4 separate regions of the Homo sapiens genome follow, and all the other regions are reported to be linked to region 4. Evidence: microRNA targets listed by miRTarBase, many of them from high-throughput screens and not tested one by one. Region 4 holds a microRNA gene; each other region holds the end of a gene's coding sequence.

Evidence for each region. Region 4 holds the annotated microRNA hsa-miR-3665 (AGCAGGUGCGGGGCGGCG, at 1,911-1,928, opposite strand). A microRNA usually pairs through its seed, bases 2 to 8, with sites in the 3' UTR of a target mRNA and lowers its output. Matches are read on the target gene's strand: a 7mer-m8 pairs with bases 2 to 8, a 7mer-A1 pairs with bases 2 to 7 and ends in A, and an 8mer does both.
Region 1: miRTarBase lists MAPKBP1 as a target of hsa-miR-3665. Seed matches in the 3' UTR shown: 7mer-A1 at 2,900-2,906 and 7mer-A1 at 2,378-2,384.
Region 2: the mRNA of ZFR2 is a reported target of hsa-miR-3665. Seed matches in the 3' UTR shown: 7mer-m8 at 3,558-3,564.
Region 3: the mRNA of ZNF641 is a reported target of hsa-miR-3665. Seed matches in the 3' UTR shown: 7mer-m8 at 1,849-1,855.

What each region holds. Positions count from the first base shown.
Region 1 is chr15:41,824,516-41,828,795 of GRCh38, reverse strand. MAPKBP1 (mitogen-activated protein kinase binding protein 1) reads right to left here. Exons shown (of 31, transcript NM_014994.3): 30 at 4,227-4,280; 31 at 941-3,587. The coding sequence ends at 3,360. It overlaps JMJD7-PLA2G4B (JMJD7-PLA2G4B readthrough), which reads right to left and starts at 704. Exons shown (of 25, transcript NM_005090.4): 1 at 608-704. The coding sequence starts at 671. It overlaps JMJD7 (jumonji domain containing 7), which reads right to left and starts at 704. Exons shown (of 8, transcript NM_001114632.2): 1 at 608-704. The coding sequence starts at 671. RefSeq lists a silencer at 727-816 and enhancers at 551-845, 877-1,106, 2,152-3,034.
Region 2 is chr19:3,802,370-3,806,493 of GRCh38, forward strand. It overlaps ZFR2 (zinc finger RNA binding protein 2), which reads right to left. Exons shown (of 19, transcript NM_015174.2): 19 at 1,655-3,756. The coding sequence ends at 3,580. Among named protein-coding and RNA genes, the nearest start is that of MATK, 18 kb to the left of the region's middle.
Region 3 is chr12:48,339,838-48,344,117 of GRCh38, reverse strand. ZNF641 (zinc finger protein 641) reads left to right here. Exons shown (of 6, transcript NM_001172681.2): 6 at 391-4,280. The coding sequence ends at 1,145. Among named protein-coding and RNA genes, the nearest start is that of ZNF641, 8.9 kb to the left of the region's middle.
Region 4 is chr13:77,696,165-77,700,444 of GRCh38, forward strand. MIR3665 (microRNA 3665) reads right to left here and starts at 1,952; the gene lies at 1,848-1,952. SLAIN1 (SLAIN motif family member 1) reads left to right here and starts at 1,523. Exons shown (of 7, transcript NM_001242868.2): 1 at 1,523-2,375. The coding sequence starts at 1,750. RefSeq lists silencers at 1,281-1,840, 2,041-2,280, 2,441-2,590.

The DNA of each region.
Region 1 (4,280 bases), not on the chromosome of region 4:
ACAATCTTTCTGTAAGAATGCAAACTGGGGCTGGGAGGAAACCTTGCTTCATTTACATTGCGTACCACTGTATATTACATACCCATCACATACACATGAGCCTGTGTTGCTGTTCAGTGGTAAGAAATCATTTAAAAATAGAAAAAAGAAGGAAGGAGGGAAGAGAGAAAGAAAGAAAAGGAATAAAAACCAAGCAGGGGAAGAGCCAGGGACCATTTGGTCAGCCTGCAATCCTCCCAAAGTGCGACAAGGGAGTTGAGGTCGGAGGTGGGGCGCGTGGGGGAGGAATCCGACCACCAGCTGTGTGCCTTCGATGAGCTTTCAACAAGGGTAACAGCAAGCTGCTCAAGACTGTAGGAAACACAGGGCTTCGCCGCGACCACGGTCAAGACGGCACCGGGCCTTGGGAACAACGTGAACAGAATCACCCAGGAAGCCGCGGGAGCGCGCGAACACGGGAGAAGGGAAGCAGGTTGCCACAGAAGAGCAACCCGAGCGGGGCCTCAGGGCAGTCGCACACACGAGGTTCCGAGCCCCCGGTGTCAGCGGCATCCCAGGGCCCCTCCCGTGTTCGGAAATCGCCGCAGCCTGTGGGAGAGCCACTCACCCCTTGCAGCGGCCGGGAATTCTCGTAACTCGCTCCGCACGGCTTCCAAAGCCGCCTCCGCCATGGCTGCGTCAGCGCCGGCCGAGACCCCGCCTTTCCCCGACGCCCCGCCGCAGGCCACACCCCAAGCACTCGCCCCGCCCTCCCCAGAGTCCCCGCCGCAGGCCACACCCCCAGACCCTCGCCCCGCCCTTCCAGAGGCACCCGCCGCAGGCCACACCCCCAGCACCCCGCCCCGTCCTGCCCCTGGACACACACCGGGTTCTGCCACCGAAGCGGTGGAGCGACTGGCAGCGCCCGCTTCGGCCTGCCCCACTGGCCGGCATCCCAGGGTTAACAAACAATTGTGTTTATTGACAAGTTCATACATCAGTACAAACGGGCACGTTAAAAACAGCGCCCCCGCCCCATGCAGCCGAGGATGAGGCAGGAAGCGCCGCGACCTGCACAAAGTATAAAAGTTATAAATAAGGGGCTTTCAAAACAAGGCGGGGGCAAATCTGGAGTGGGGCGGCGGTTGCCGGTGGCCTCAGACATGCAGAAGGGGACGGGGCGCCGGCCGGGCCACGAGGCCCCCCACCCACATGGGGCAGAGGGCAGGAAAAGGGCGGCCACATTCTCACAAACTTCTGGCGAAGGGTAGCTCCCTCCTCGTGAAGGACCTGGCCCAGAGGGCGAACCTGAGTCCCACCTGCGGTGGGCGCGGCTGGTGTGGGAAGTCGGGGCACAGCAGGCACGGGCCCGCCCCCGCCGCCGCGGGAGTTCCAGGGCCATGCGGGTGGCGATGCTAGAGGAGTGGGGAAGGGCCAGGTTTGGAGCAGCTCAAGCGCACTCAGGCTGATGCCCCGGAGCTGGGAACCTTTTGTAACCCTTTTTCTTTTTTTTTTTTGAGATGGCGTGTAGCTTTGTCACCTAGGTTGGAGTGCAATGGCGCGATCTCGGCTCACTGCAACCTCCACCTCCACCTCCAGGGTTCAAGCGATTCTCCTGCCTAAACCTCCCGAGTAGCTGGGATTACAGGCGCCCACCACCACGCCCAGCTAATTTTTTTATTTTTAGTAGACAGGGTTTCACCATGTTGGCCAGGCTGATCTCGAACTCCTAACCTCAGGTGATCCACCCGCCTCGGCCTCCCAAAGTGCTGGGATTACAGGCTTGAGCCACCACACCTGGCCCAGAACCCATTTCTTTATAAGCCTCTGCCTATGGCGCAGCAGGGCGGGTGAAGGGGCTCTCGTGGCCTGAAGCTGTGGTAAAGCTGCTCTGACTTACCTGCAGCAGAGGGGAGCAGTAGGGCCCAGAAAAACCTTTCCTCAACTCTTCAACTGCCTCACGACATGGTCCCACTCTACCTCCTAGGGTCCCCTATCTCCTTTCCCTCACCCCTAATTACTGCCCTTTTACATTCTAACTTATCCCCTCACCTCTGCCACTTACCTGTCCCATCTACCACTTTTCTAGTGTCTCCTTTGGCCCCAGCACCTCCCTCCTCTCAAACTCCAGTATCCAGCACACCCGTGGGTGCCCAGCACTGCCTTTGAGGAGGCTCCTTCTACCTAAACCAGGTGTCCTATGGGCTATCTCGTATCAGCTAGGCTGTGGACACCAAGAATCCAGAATCTGGGTTCACTTAGTGTACTGCACCCCTTTTCTGCTCCCTGATAGGTGTTCCACATAAGCCAGGGTGGTGAAGCTGAGGCAGGATGTGAGGAAACCAGGCACACAGCAGCCAGCCAGATACTCTAGCAACCAACACTCAACAGCGTGCTGTGCAGGTAGGTGTGTGTGTGTACATGTGTGCACGTGCATGCGTGTGATCTCATCTGTGGCTGAGGTCCTCAGGAGGTAGGCCAGCGCCCCGTAAACGAGGGATGTTCCAACACAGGCTTCTGACTAAGCATCATTCAGGATGCAGGGAGAAGGTGGCCTCTGGGCTCCAGCAGCCGGCTGGGGTCCAGGGTGGAGGACAGGGAAGAACAAGGGGCTGAGGAAAGGAGGCCAGAGCTTCATGTTTGCCCAGGTGAGGGCTTACTGTCCTGCAGCAACATCCCACAGCTGGCTCAAGTTCTGGCCAGGAGAGTAAGGGGTCACAGGGAAATACAATGCTGGGCCCCTCTTGGAGGGAGAATGGGAGTGGAATGTGCGGGCTCAGGTCCAAATACCAACTCAAGTCTCCTGATGGCTGGGGACACCCTGGAGGGCCAGATGGCTCTGCCTTTCTGAGCTCCAGGTATTGGGGAAAACCACCCTGCTCTGGCAGCCACGGGAGTGCAGCTGGTGTGAGAGGGGAAGTGCAGGTAGAGGTGAAGGCCCACAGTTGGCTGACGGGCACTGAATACCACATCACCTCTCACCTCGACCCCAGAGTACCCTGTGTATGCTCCACCACAGGGAGCTAATCCCTGCAGTAATTTCAAATGGCTTCTAAGAGAGGGCCAGCCCTTCCCAGATTCCTAGATGGGGCAGGCTGCCCTCCTACCTCTCACAGCACCAAGATGACAAAGACCCAAGACCTGTCCCTGCCACTGGAGGGGCTGTGGAGGCAGGAGTTCCAAGGAAGTGAGGCAACAGTCAGGGAAATAAATTAATAAATACAGGCCCCCCACGAGGAGCGGCTGGGAAGGCTGCTTTGCCTCTGAACACTGCTCCCTGCTTTCCACTCCAAGCAGCCCCGCAGGTTTTGGTGAGGGGCAGAGGGGCTGCAGTTTGGAATCGCTGGAGCATTCATTCACTTGGGACAGGCTTCCAGAACTCAGAGTTTGCGTTCCATACGCCGTTCCACGGCTCGAAGCAACAGTTCTGAGTATTGCTCCAGCAGGGCCTGTGTCTGCTCGGCTCCCACAGCCCCAGGGCTGCTGCCTGGGCTGGACAGCACTGCCCCAGCCACAGCTTCCAGCTCCTGTCGCACTGAAGAGAAGGTGTCTCTGAGGAGCTGGGCAATCCGACTTTGCTCTGCTGAGGGCATCTTGCAGCCAGCCACCTGAAATAGCACCCCCAGAAGTGAGGTGGAGGAGCCTGTCAACAGACATATAAAAGGGAGGGGCCCCACCTGGGTCCAGCCTGCCTCAGAAGGGACTAGCTGGGAACTCTACCCGCCAAGATCAGCATGTATGGCCAGGGAACATGGGATGCAGGCAGACTCTGGGGGTGACGCCCAAGGAGGAACCCATTGGATTGCAGAACCGTCTACATCTTATAAGCAACTCCTTATGACAACTCCGGCAGAATCTGCTTTCTCTTTCAAAGTTTGGGCCTTCTTGGACTGTCCCCTATGTCTAAGGGGGCCAAATAATTCATGGATATGAAAAAGGATGCCATTAATAATTACACTGGGACAACGACATAAACTGGGATTGTCCTGAGCCAACTAGGAGGTGTGGTCTCTTCAGGCCTCACCTCCTGAGGGAAGTCTCCAGCTCTTAACCAGAAATGACCGCAGGTGCCCGGTACAAGAGGCTAGCCTGGCCTCTAACCCCCTCACCTATGCTGCCCAAGATGTTCTTGAGTGTGCCATCCTGTCAGCACAAGAGGCTTAGCATACTGTTCTGGACATGGTTATCCGAAACACCCAGCACTACTGACGTGCCCGCCTTCCTGCCGGGGGGCACCTAACACCCACCGAGTGGTAGAGCCGCACTGCCTGGCGCACGCTGCCGCGGAGCTCTGCCACCAG
Region 2 (4,124 bases), not on the chromosome of region 4:
ACGTGGGCCAGGCTGGTCTCGAACTCCTGACCTCAAGTGATCCGCTCGCCTTGGCCTCCCAAAGTGCTGGGATTACAGGCACATGCCACTGCACCCGGCCGACAAATGGTATTCTCATAACCACCAGAAAGAGACACGTCCTCTGGTGTCAGAGCGTGGCTCTGAGCACTGAGACCGACTCAGTTGCTAGCGTCCACCTGGCCTGCCCGAGATCTGGGAATACAGTGGTGATCCAATTGATGGTGAGAGGCTTCCTGACAGGCAGAGAGTTCACATTCTCAAGGGGAAGACAGATACCAAATCGTTTCAAAGATGCATGGTTTAAAGTCAAGGAATAGGCCAGGCGCGGTGGCTCACGCCTATAATCCCAGCACTTTGGGAGGCTGAGGTGGGCGGATCACCTGAGGTCAGGAGTTTGAGACCAGCCTGGCCAACATGGTGAAACCCCGTCTCTACTAAAAATACAAAAAATTAGCTGGGCGTGGTGATGTAGGCCTGTAGTCCCAGCTACTCGGGTGGCTGAGGTGGAATAATCACTGGAACTCAGGAGGCGAGGTTGCAGTGAGCTGAGATCGAGCTGCTGCACTCCAGCCTGGGAGACAGAGACCCTGTCTCAAAAAAAAAAAAAAAAAAAAAAGGTGGAACTGGAATTGACAAGACATCCTCATGGATTGGCCGGGAGCACAGAGGAATCCAGGAGGCCTCCCTGGTTGTGCTGGCTGTCACCTTGAGCCCTGGGCAAATGGCGGTGCTGCTGCCGCGATGCTGACGGAGAGAGGGGCTGTGTGTGGACGGAGTGTGTAGCAAGGGAGTGAAGTTCCCAAGAAATCTGGGATAGAGTGGAAAGCAGGAGAGAGGGTGTGAGGTGGAGGAGGACGGTGGCCTAGAGGCCGCCTGCCCTCCGGGGAGGCTTAACCAGCAATTCCTGTTGCTGACAGATAATCCCTGCTAGAAGGGGACCCCTCGGTGGCTCCCCACCCCCCTCCTTTGGCCTGGGCCTGAAACAGCGGTCCCTGCACACCCAGCCCCTGCCACTCCCGTCCCGCCGCCCCCACCCTGCATCTGCCTCCTCCCCCACCCTGCATCTGCCTCCTCCCCACTCTGCTCCCCGCCTGCCCCCCGTCCCAAACACTGCCAGGGAAGCCCTGTGGGCTGGAAACTGTCACGAAACTCTTCCACTGTGACCAGGTCTCAGCATCTGAACACCCTCCGCCCGCCTTCTGAGGGTTTGGGAATGTGGCGGGGGAAGCACTCTGTGGGCAGAGGCATCTCTCCCAAACTCAGCGTAGTTGCCTCCTCCTCCAGGAAGCCCTCGGGGAGCCTCCAGAGCATCTCACTGTGTGTCTCTAGGATGGGGCCAGGGGAACCCTCAAGGACCGAGGCAGAGAGCTGGGTTATGGGAGGCGTTGAGATGAATGATTCTCAGCCGGTGTGTCTGTGTTCCCAGGGGACCCTTGTGAGGGGACAGCCTGAGGATGCCCACACCTTGGGGAGCAGCCACTGAGCAGTGCCAGCCCCTTGGGCCCCTCCCAGTCCACATTTGGGCTGCAGGGTTTCTGGGAGACCCCCACCCGGGACCCTGAGAAGGAGGTGAAGAGCCCAGCATTTGGGGTCACCTGCACCCCGCAGGAAGGACGGCACGGCTCACACAAAAGACAAATGATTTCCTTTATTCCCCCTGCCTCCCAATTTCCAGGTAGCTCTACAAAGACATTCAGACAGAGCCACATGCAGGCTGTCCTTCAAACACAGAGAAACAAAACTGAGCCACTGGCTGGAGATCACATCTGCCCAAAGGTGGACTTTTCTCATTCAATGCCACTGGGCAGCTGGCCAAAGAAAAAAAAACTGACCAAGCGGAAGGTTTGAACAGGTTGGGGTGGGGACTCAGAAGGGGGTGCCCCCACATCCATCAGTGCCAGGAGGCGCCTGCCCACCATGGCCAGCATCCACAAGACGGCGGCCCCTCCCCGGGTCCCCCAGGCACGGGTCCCGGGCCCTGCTACCACAAGGGGGGATTGGGGACCCCCTGCCTCAGGGCCAGCCAAGGCCTACATCAGGGAGAGAGGGAGGAAGGAAGGACGGAAGCTCAAATCCAGGCCTCAGTGACACATGGCAGAGTGGGTTTTCTCTGTGAAAGGCACTCAGTGGTACAGGGCTCGGGGCGGGGGGTGGGTGGGGGTGCCTCTGGGCTCCGGGTCTGACTGTCCAGCACAGCTGTTCCCGGGGGAGGCCCAGCCAGGATCCTCATCGCCCGTCGGCGTGTCCACCTGGCCCTGTGGCTCTCCCCACAGGGGACGAGCCTGGCTCAGGCCCTGCTGACATCCTGGCTGTGGAGGTGGGTGGGGGGTCTGTTTGGAGCAGGCTGGGCTGGGGGCGTGGGGATGCCGGCTGGGAGCTCCCCTGGGCTTGTCCTGCACATGTGGTGGGGCCCCAGAACAGGGCCTGCCCACGTGATTTCAAATCCATGCCGCAGCCGCATCCAAAGAAAGTTTTGTTTGTTTGTTTGTTTGTTTGTTTGTTTCTTTGAGACAGGGTCTCGCTCTGTAACCCAGGCTGGAGTTCAGTAGCGCAATCTCGGCTCGCTGCAGCCTCGAACTCCTGGGCTCAAGGGATCCTACGGCCTCAGCCTCCCGAGTAGCTGGGACTACAGGCTTGGGCCACCACAACTGGCTAATTTTTTGTAGAGATGGGGTGTCACCATATTGCCCAGACTGATCTTAAACCGCTGGGCTCAAGCGATCCACCAAGCTTGGCCTCCCAAAGTGCTGGGATTATAGGTGTGAGCCACCATGCGCAGCCCAGAGGAAGTATTTTAAAACCCCTTCCTGTACCACGAGGTGAGTTTAGAGCCAGCAAGATGCCCCCGAGTTTAGAATCTGCTTGCTGTACTGCTGGCCCCCCTGGCTGTGGGGGATGGGGCCCTCGAGGAAGGGGTGCCACTCCCAGGGCTGGATGGTGTCATTTCTGTAACAATTTAAGCACAAATGTTAAAAAACATTTCTTTTAAGTGACAAAGTCTTCTTCTGTTGCCCAGGCTGGAGTGTCACGGTGCAATCACAGCTCACTGCCCTCCTGGCCTCAAGGCTCCGGACTCAGCCTCCCAAGTAGCTGGGACTACAGGTGCACACCACCACGCCAGGCTAATTGTTGTGTTTTTTACTAGAGACAGGGTTTCACCATGTTGACCAGGCCGGTCTCGAACTCCTGACCTCAGGCGATCTGCCCACCTCGGCCTCTCAAAGTGCTGGGATTACAGGCGTGAATCACCGCGCCTGGCCACCAACCATGCCAAGCTGATTTTTAAAAATATTTTGGAGAGATGGGGGTCTCACTCTGTTGTCTGGGCTGGCCTTGAACTCTCAGGCTCAAGCAACTCAGCCTCCCAAAGTGCTGGGATTAAAGGCATGAGCCACAGTGCCCGGTCTGAAGCACAGGTGTTTTAAAGGAAACCTACAGAGCGTTACTCAAAAGGAAATGACCATTGTCCAACGTCGGGGATGAAGCAGCCATTGGTCGGCGCGCACACGTCCAGGAGTGCAGGGATGCAAAGGCCCGCAGGTGGGGGAGGTAGGCGGCTCACACGAGCCCCTCTCCGCCCCGCCGGCCCCGCTTCTTCTCCCCTGCGCCCTCCTCTCCCTCGCCAGGTCCCCGTTGCCTCTTCCGGAAGCGGGCCCCCAGCCGGTGTCTGGGCGGCAGGAGATCCATGCCCAGGACCTTGTGGGTCTGCCGGAAGGCCAGCATTCGCAGGGCGTGCTGCGGGGCACACACAGCCTGTCAGGACCCCCGCCCGCTCTGCTCCCCGAGTGCTGGGGACACAGAGGGGCTGGTGTCTGTGGCCACCAGCAGATGGGCCAGGCCTATCCTGTATCCCTCGAGATAGCCCCCGGCCCCCCGCCGCTTTCTTTTTTGAGACACAGTCTCGCTCTGTCACCCAGGCTGGAGTGCAGTGGCGCGATCTCAGCTCATTGCAACCACCGCCTCCCAGGTTCAAGTGATTCTCCTGCCTCAGCCTCCCAAGTAGCTGGGATTACAGGCGTGTGCCACCACGCCCAGCTAATTTTGTATTTTTAGTAGAGACAGGGTTTCACCATGTTGGCCAGGCTGGTCTCGAACTCCTGACC
Region 3 (4,280 bases), not on the chromosome of region 4:
TAATATACAGTAGTAAATAAATAATGGTAATAAATAATAACAATAACATATACAATTTACTAAGTACTTAAACTATGTGCAGGTTCTGTGCTATCTATCTTATAACTGCCGGAGAGAGAGGTATTATTCCAATTTTACAGAAGAAATGAAGGTTTAGGGAAGTTAAGTGGGAAAGCTGAGATTCCATCTTAGGTAATCTGCCTCCTAAGCCTAGGCTTTTAACCTCTATATCTATTGCACTGTCTTGTACGACATTAGACTATGTTCTCTCAGCCCTTCTGGGGTCAAGTCTGGGCCCTGGCAGGTATCAGACAACCTCATTTGTGACTTAGGCCTCAAGCACTCTCTTGTGACTCTTCTCTTGGGGTTGGTATTTCCCCTTCTCCGCAGGAGATGGAAGTGAACATGAGGGGGATACCCCTGAACTAGAAGCAGAACCTCCCAGAATGTTATCCAGCGTGTCTGAAGATACTGTTCTCTGGAACCCGGAGCATGATGAGAGCTGGGATTCCATGCCCAGCAGCTCCAGAGGAATGCTCCTGGGGCCCCCTTTTCTTCAGGAAGATAGTTTCTCAAACCTGCTGTGTAGCACAGAGATGGATTCCCTGTTAAGACCCCACACATGCCCCCAGTGTGGGAAACAGTTTGTATGGGGTTCCCACCTTGCCAGGCATCAACAAACACACACTGGGGAGAGACCCTACAGCTGCCTCAAGTGTGAGAAGACCTTTGGGCGAAGACATCACCTCATCAGGCACCAGAAAACCCACCTACATGACAAGACCAGCAGGTGCTCTGAGTGTGGTAAGAATTTCCGATGCAACTCCCATCTGGCCAGCCACCAGAGAGTGCATGCAGAAGGCAAATCCTGCAAAGGCCAAGAGGTTGGAGAGAGCCCTGGCACAAGGAAACGGCAGCGTGCCCCACCAGTGCCAAAGTGTCACGTGTGCACTGAATGTGGGAAGAGCTTTGGCCGAAGGCACCACCTTGTGAGACACTGGCTGACCCACACTGGGGAGAAGCCCTTCCAGTGCCCTCGCTGTGAGAAGAGCTTTGGCCGAAAACATCACCTGGACAGGCACCTGCTCACCCACCAGGGACAAAGTCCCCGGAACAGCTGGGACAGAGGAACATCTGTCTTTTGAAATCTGTTTCCACTACAGCTATGGTCAAGTCTATCAGCCGGTGCTACCAGGAGTCACTGCCAGGGCTGCCGTTCTCCTGAACCCCAGTGGCCAGAATCATAAGCCCTGACCCCATCCCTAGAAAGATGAGGTCCCAGCAATGGCCAGAGCATTTCTCACCAGTTCTGTGAGATAGCACATAAAAATAGAGTTCTTTGGGCAAAACTTTTGGGAAGCAATGCATCCTACATGGGCTGATATTCAGCCTGAGCTGTTCTCAAGAGGAGAGTGGTACTGGCAGTTTATGGCTGAAATCCATTCTGATTGGTTGGAGTCTATGCTATACCAGTTGTTAAACATTTTGAGTATCACTCTTGCATACTGTTACTATTATATTTTCTCTATATATAGACAGAAAGGCCATTTTAGAATATTAAAGGCTCTGAAAATTTCTGCAGTAGACCCAACTGAAGGTTCTATTAAGGCAGTGTTTCCTAAATGTATTTGACCTCAGTATCCTTTCTATTTACATCCCACAGAACTGGTGACTATGAAACACTCTGGTGAACACTGGGTTAGAGAGTAACAAGGAAACAAGAGATAGTGATCAGGCATCCAGAGCCCCCTTTTTTATCCATATGAAAGCCAGGGGGGCCAGACCTTGTTCATGTGTGGGTCTGTCTTCCTTATGCCAATCAGCAGTATATACATCACCTCTCACCCTCACCTGCTGAAAAAATAACCTTTTTACCCATTATTCCTACTCCCTTCATCCTGCACATACATATATCCAGCTGAGAGATCACACTACAAGGCTAAGAGATGATCTAATACCCCCAAATAGCCCTGGCCCACACAGAAAAACAGAAAAACAAAAAAAACTTTATCCCCTTGAACAGTCCCCTCTCTCCTCTTGACTGTCTTTATGTGTCTGTGTATTTGTGTGCAGGGTCTTTGAAGACAGCATGCTATGTGCAAACTGTACAAGCTAGGTTTTCTAGGGGCTGTGTTCTGGGGATGAGGGTAGTGGGGATTATATGGGGTTTTTTCTTTGTTTCAAGACAGGAAGCAGTCTGGTTAAGGGAGAACTAGTGGAAAGGGTTAAATGACAGGTTAAGTTGAGTACAAAGCTTTCCCAGTACTGCTGAGATTAAGACAATTGTGGATGTGTATGTCTAGGTTTGAATCTCTGGGCTGCAGATTGCTTTTGCCCTGGCAGAGAAAGAGGAGTCTTTGGGGAGGTGAGCTGTTTCTTGTTGATTTCAGGCAAGAGGCACATAGAAACTTTGTATTGAGTGGGGATTTTGTTTTAAGTGCTGGAAAATTAGGGCAGGAATTACGTGTTTGCAAGTTGTTGCCATCACTGGTTTGAATTTGACTGCCTCATCAAGGGGCAAGAGTTATTCTTGAAGATCTCATTCTCCCAGAAACAGAACTTTAGGGAAAATGGCTGTGGCTTAGCTTTTCAGCTGCTGCAGGGTAATAAGCTTTCTGGTTGGTTTTCCTTCCAATTCTGGAAAGGTGTCCACACTAAGACCCTTAACTCTAGGGCTTGCATAAGTATTCTAGCATCGTTAGCTAATGAGTTGGTCATTGTTTCTCTTTATCAATAATTGTGTTAATACCAATCTTATAATTTAAAAATTATCTTGTATGTAAGAGCAGTTCGGGGTTAGGGAGGAAGAGGAGCAAAGTGGGATATTTTCTCTTTAATGCTTAGATACTGTTTCTTCCCTAAGATGTGTTTCTCAACCACAATTGGTGGAATGAACCAGAGAGGCAAGAGGAAGTGAATTGCACCAATTTAGTTTAGCGACTGTGCCTTTTGCAGGAAAAACTGGGTGAATCACAGCTCCTCAGAGTCCTGGACTCAACTAGAATTGAAGATAGACTTATTTTGCTGACTGGGCTTCTTAGAGTTTATGTGACTTGAACAGCTTGGCCCCTGCCTCCCTTCTGCTACTGTGAGCAGCCTTCCTTCTTCCTTCATTCTTCCTGGAATGCAGTTCTCTTGCTTATGATCCTATGAATAAGGCAAAATGGCTGGTCTTTGTAAGGCAGGTCTTGCCCTAGCTTCTCAGAAACAGGAGCATTTTAGGATCAGTATTAGGAGATGCCCCAGGGAGTAAGAAAGTATTGGGTTCAGTGATAAATCTGGACTCTGACATTTCTTTTACTCTCCCTCTTTAATACTAAAAGCTCTGCATAAGCAATGGTTCAGAACCTGTCTTGGGTACAGACCTGTTGAATCTGACAGAAACCAGAAACGCACTTTTGAGAAAAAGACATTTGTAATTCACTCAGTTTTCCATACACATTTAGCAGGTTCAAAGCCCATCTGTGGAATCCCTAAACTGCCTTCAAAGAAAGGGAGTTCCCCGATCTAAAATGGTCATTATATATTTGTGTCAAGAATTAGAAGGCAAGGGTCACTAAATATTTTAAGGATTAAGGTACCAGAGGCATCAGTGGTATAAGGATGGAGTCTGGTCTTTAATTACGACAAGGGTATTGCTTACATTCTACTCTCTGGTTTTCAAAAAGATCTGACATGCTGACAAATCCAGCTCCTCACAAATCTTGTTTGAAGGACTTGTGGGAAGTGATATTCCTTACTATTAGATCACGCCCCTTATAACTACATGTTAACATCCAGCCTTTTATCTGTTTGAGTAATTGTAGGGATAGAAAGTGAAGCCCCCAGAGTTAGGTGCAAGTATAGCACCCAGCTGAAAGGCATCATGGAGTCTAAGGGCCTTCTACAGAAGGGGCAATCCTTTGGGTTATTTCTGGTGTACCACTGTCTTCTCTACCTCGGTCCAACACCACCTCTCTTGGACAAAAAATAAAACAAGCAACAGCCATCAGATGAGTGAATAGATTTGAATGATTTTTCCCACAGGGAATCAGCCTCAAATGTTCATGTTTCACCCCGTCCCCTTTAAATAAAAAGAATCTCTGTGTTCTCTTTGGGCAAAATGTAAAACAGGGATATCATCTTCAGGAACCTGTCACATTTTTCCATCTGGTACCTCCACCCTATTCTGAGTATCCTCCCCTTTCCACCCCAACATAGTATCTTTCAAAGAATCCCTTGCATAGGAGACTGTAACCGAAAGTGTTAGCTTTTCACCAGGCTATTTACACTTTACGCCT
Region 4 (4,280 bases):
AGGTTTTGGTAATAACCAAAAAAAATCCTAAAGATATACCGAAACTTGGAAAGGTGATGGGTGATACAGGTGGTTAGGTGGTGGGCTAGCAAGCTGGGACACAGGGAAGGTTAAGGGAGTCATCACACGCATTTAGCTAATTTATGGAAGCGCTCACCAAGCATGTTAAATGCAGAACATCCACCCTGCACACAGAAGCTAGAGATGTAGATTAACAACTGAGAAGATACAAGTGTTTCTGAGCAGGAAGACACAAAACCATATCTGAAACCAATAGATACGATGTGTTAGCAGCTCCAGAGAAATGAGGTACATTGTCACAAAGATTGGTATGTAAAGTCCCTAGCAAGGACTTTCACTAGATAGTATATCATCTGAGGATGAGAACCAGTGGTGTAGATTTTTCTCATAATATAATCTCAGGTTTTCCTCTGATTGTGTTAAACACTCAAAATGCTAAGTCAGTCAGTATTCATTGAACACAACTCGATTAAATTCTTCTGCTTAAAAGCCTCTTTTAAAAAAAGCAGATTTGCTCGTTTTCCAAGTGGTAAGAAATAGCAGGTTTGCAGGTGAGATTAAAGTGTATTGGGTAGAATTCTGAGGTTTTCTGTTTTCTGCTTTCCCACCAGCAAGTCTGACTTTAATAACTTACACATTATTTAATAGAAGGAGCACTAAACAATTTTACTCATATTTCTCCCCATAACCATTTTTGCCTATTGTACTCATTGCCCGCATCACGAGCTCTTAGAATGGTTCCTGGCACAGAGTAGGTGCTCAAAGATCTTTTGTTTGGGGAATGCATGAATATACATAGTATGAAAAAAAAAGCAGTTCTTCTTTTATTGTGACAAACAATGATGGTAACAGTTCAAATTTGACTATTTTAGAATAAATAAGTAAACACTTGTCTCCTTAGCAGCTGGCCACTCTACCTCTTAGAGAGAGGGCTTTCTTCTCTTTCTTCTCGGTCTCCTGTCTCCCACCATTTTGCTTCTCTATTACCAATGAGAACATGAGTGGCATGGTCCCAAAGCCTTTCTGTTCCCCCTATCTCCACTTTTCGGTTTTTAGAATAACGATCCCCAGCCTTTAAGTTTTCTATAGGATTCGTTAGCCAGTGGCTATTAAGTGCTGTCACGGAGCCTAACAGAGAGCTGGGAAGGGAGCAAACCAGCGGGCCGGTGGTGCACTACTCGAGGGCCAGCACCTGCAGCTGCTTCTTTGGGAACCCCCTGGTCCCCGCAACCGCCTCAGAGACCCGCGCAGTTCACTGTCCCACCAAGCGGCAGGAGGAGGTGCTTGTGGCGGGAAAGTTCAGGCCAGGTCCAATCAGGCCCCTGGGATTAGGTAGCGAGGGTGGGTGCGGCTCCCCGGCCCCAACCCGGGCTGCCGGCCCCGCCCCCTGGGTGGGCTTCCCCACGGTTCTCCGCCCCCCCCCCCCCACCCGCCCCCTCGGCGCTCTTGCCCCGCCCCGCTCCGGGGCCGCGGCTAAAACCCGGAGCCGCCGCGACGCCCAGGGGACTGGAGGGACGCACTGAGCATGTGCAGATCAGCTCGGTGGTGGCTGCCGCGGCCGGAGGCGAGGGCCCGGTGCTGATGCGAACCGCCGGCTCGGCCTCAGCCCGCGCGTGGTCGGCCCCCCAGGCCGGGGCGACAGGGAAGGAGCCGTAGCCTCCCCGTGGCCCGAGGAGCCGGCGCGGCGGCGCGCACTCCCCGGCGGCCGCGGCGCCCTCGGGGCCCACGATGATGGCGGAGCAGGTGAAATGCGCCTCGGCAGGGGTCAGCTCTGGAGCGGGCTCCGGGCCGGTGGTGAACGCGGAGCTGGAGGTGAAGAAGCTGCAGGAGCTGGTGCGCAAGCTGGAGAAGCAGAACGAGCAGCTGCGGAGTCGAGCGGCCAGCGCGGCCGCCGCCCCGCACCTGCTGCTGCTGCCGCCGCCGCCGCCCGCCGCGCCGCCCCCCGCTGGCCTGCAGCCTTTGGGTCCTCGGAGCCCCCCGGCCGCCACGGCCACCGCCGCGGCCTCAGGGGGCCTGGGGCTCGGGCTGGCGCTGGGCGCGGGGGGCGGTGGCGGCAGCGGTAGTGGCAGCGGCGGTGGCTCCAGCCCCGCGTTCCCGGGCACCTTCTGCCTGCCTAGCCCCGCGCCCTCCCTGCTTTGCAGCCTGGCGCAGCCACCCGAGGCGCCCTTCGTCTACTTCAAGCCGGCAGCAGGCTTCTTCGGCGCGGGCGGTGGCGGGCCGGAGCCGGGGGGCGCGGGGACGCCGCCAGGGGCAGCTGCAGCGCCGCCCTCGCCGCCCCCCACGCTGCTGGACGAGGTGGAATTGCTGGATCTGGAGAGCGTAGCCGCCTGGCGGGACGAGGACGACTACACCTGGTACTGCCTGGCTCCGCTCCTTCCCCGAGACCCTGGCCTCGGGGGCTTCGGGCACCGGGGAGCGGGGGCGGGGGGCGGACGGGGGTCCCCTCGCGGCAGCCGGGGTGACTCCCCGCGGCTCCCGGAGGGGCCGACCCAGCAGGTGTTGAGCCAGGCGGTGACACTTCCCACGATGAGGCTTCTCATGAAGGCAGAAACCTGTTTTCTAATCGCTCCGACTGCGGATGAACCGGCCCCCCCTTCCCCCCATCTGCCATGGGTTCTGCTATTTGCTGATTGTTGGGTCCCAAGCTCCTCGTTAGCATTAAGTGCAAAATCCATGTCATCTTGTCTTTTTGCTCAGTGCTGCTCTTTTCCCCAGTGTTTTCGGAGGGATGACGGGGGATGGTAGGGGTTGGCCTCTGTCTGCGACTGTTACTGTTCTTTCGTTTTAAACGAACGCTGGACAGGATTTGCGTGCTCTTCCTCCTCGGGTGGCATCGGAAGCCGCGCAGTGATGGATCTCTCTTTATAGAGAGGTTCGTTCTTGCTGTTTGAATTTTGCAGTCGTGTGCCCTTTTGCGTTGCATTTTCATTGAAATCTTATTTTCAGAGACTGACTTGCTTTTTAAAATGGGGTGACCTCACTGGCTTTCCCATAAATAGTGCCAATAAAGAGGACTTTTCTTGGAGTGGAATGAACAGGTGGGAGGGACTTTTTTATTTATTTATTTATTTTTTTACCTAGGAACCAACGAACTGTCTTTAATTTTTTAAATTAAACTGTAGAAGAAAAGTGAGATTAGAGAAGCCTTATTTTCTTATTTCTTGGAAACTTTTTAGCTTGGTTATCAGAAAACTTGAGGCTGACAGCATTTATTCAGTTGACATCTGGTTAGCACTGTCTACTTTCCATGAATGAGTAACTTTAGGGGGAGGCTTGCTGTAGTCCTTCTTTACTTTAGGTCCTTTTTATGTAGGACCCTTTCTGTTTTTCCAAGCTGTGTTTTCATTACTTTCTTTGTGTCTCTGTTGCATGATTGCATGGAAGGGATTGGGAAATGGAGATCCTTACTGGTTTCCTATTGGGAACTGCAGTGTTCCTTTTCCCTTACACTCTGTCATGTGAGAGCTCTAACTGTAAAGTACATTAGTTAATTGGTTTCATTCAAGAATCAAAATATATGGAGTTACAGTAAGCCTTTCAGAGGTGTATTCATCATCCACCTTAATACTTTTTGGCAGCTGTGCAGGTAGCTCAAGGTGTAAAAAAATCAAACAACTCATCACTTTTGGGAACTTTAAGCCATTTTTTCAAAGCTGCACCCTTATTTCTGTAAAGTAATCTCAGTTTCAGTCTGAATGTGGTACTAGAAAATGCTCTCATGATGGTCCTTAGATTTCACTAATAACTCTCAGCCCTTATGCCACTTTCAAATTATTTTAGGTTGATTTAGTCCCTACTTAGCCTTTTCTGATGGTATGTATGTAAACAGTGGAAGGAAACTTGTTTACATTTTTGATGGGGAGATATATGGGATCAGTTTTATGCTTAAAATATTTGCATTTTAAAATTTATTGTGATATTGTTTGTAAATATGAGATTAGTAATCTATTAATAACTTTCCTTCTTTTGAATGGATTTCTGTCATATTTAGTTAGCATCCTATTACTAGCATTTTGGTACCTAGGCTTTCTTTTTATAGTTTAATTTTGTCCAAATAGCATTGAAATAATCAACTTTAACAGAAATCACCCACTTAGTGGTATTAGTATATTAGCTCTTCAGATGGTTTGAAGCAAATCAAAGTTGAAGCAGGTTCTATTTCATTCAACAAGTACACAGGTGAATAAATCAAAGCCTTGATGCTTTACAAATGTTTCTAGAGACAAATGGCAGAGAATCTTCCTGAAAACAAGCCTGAG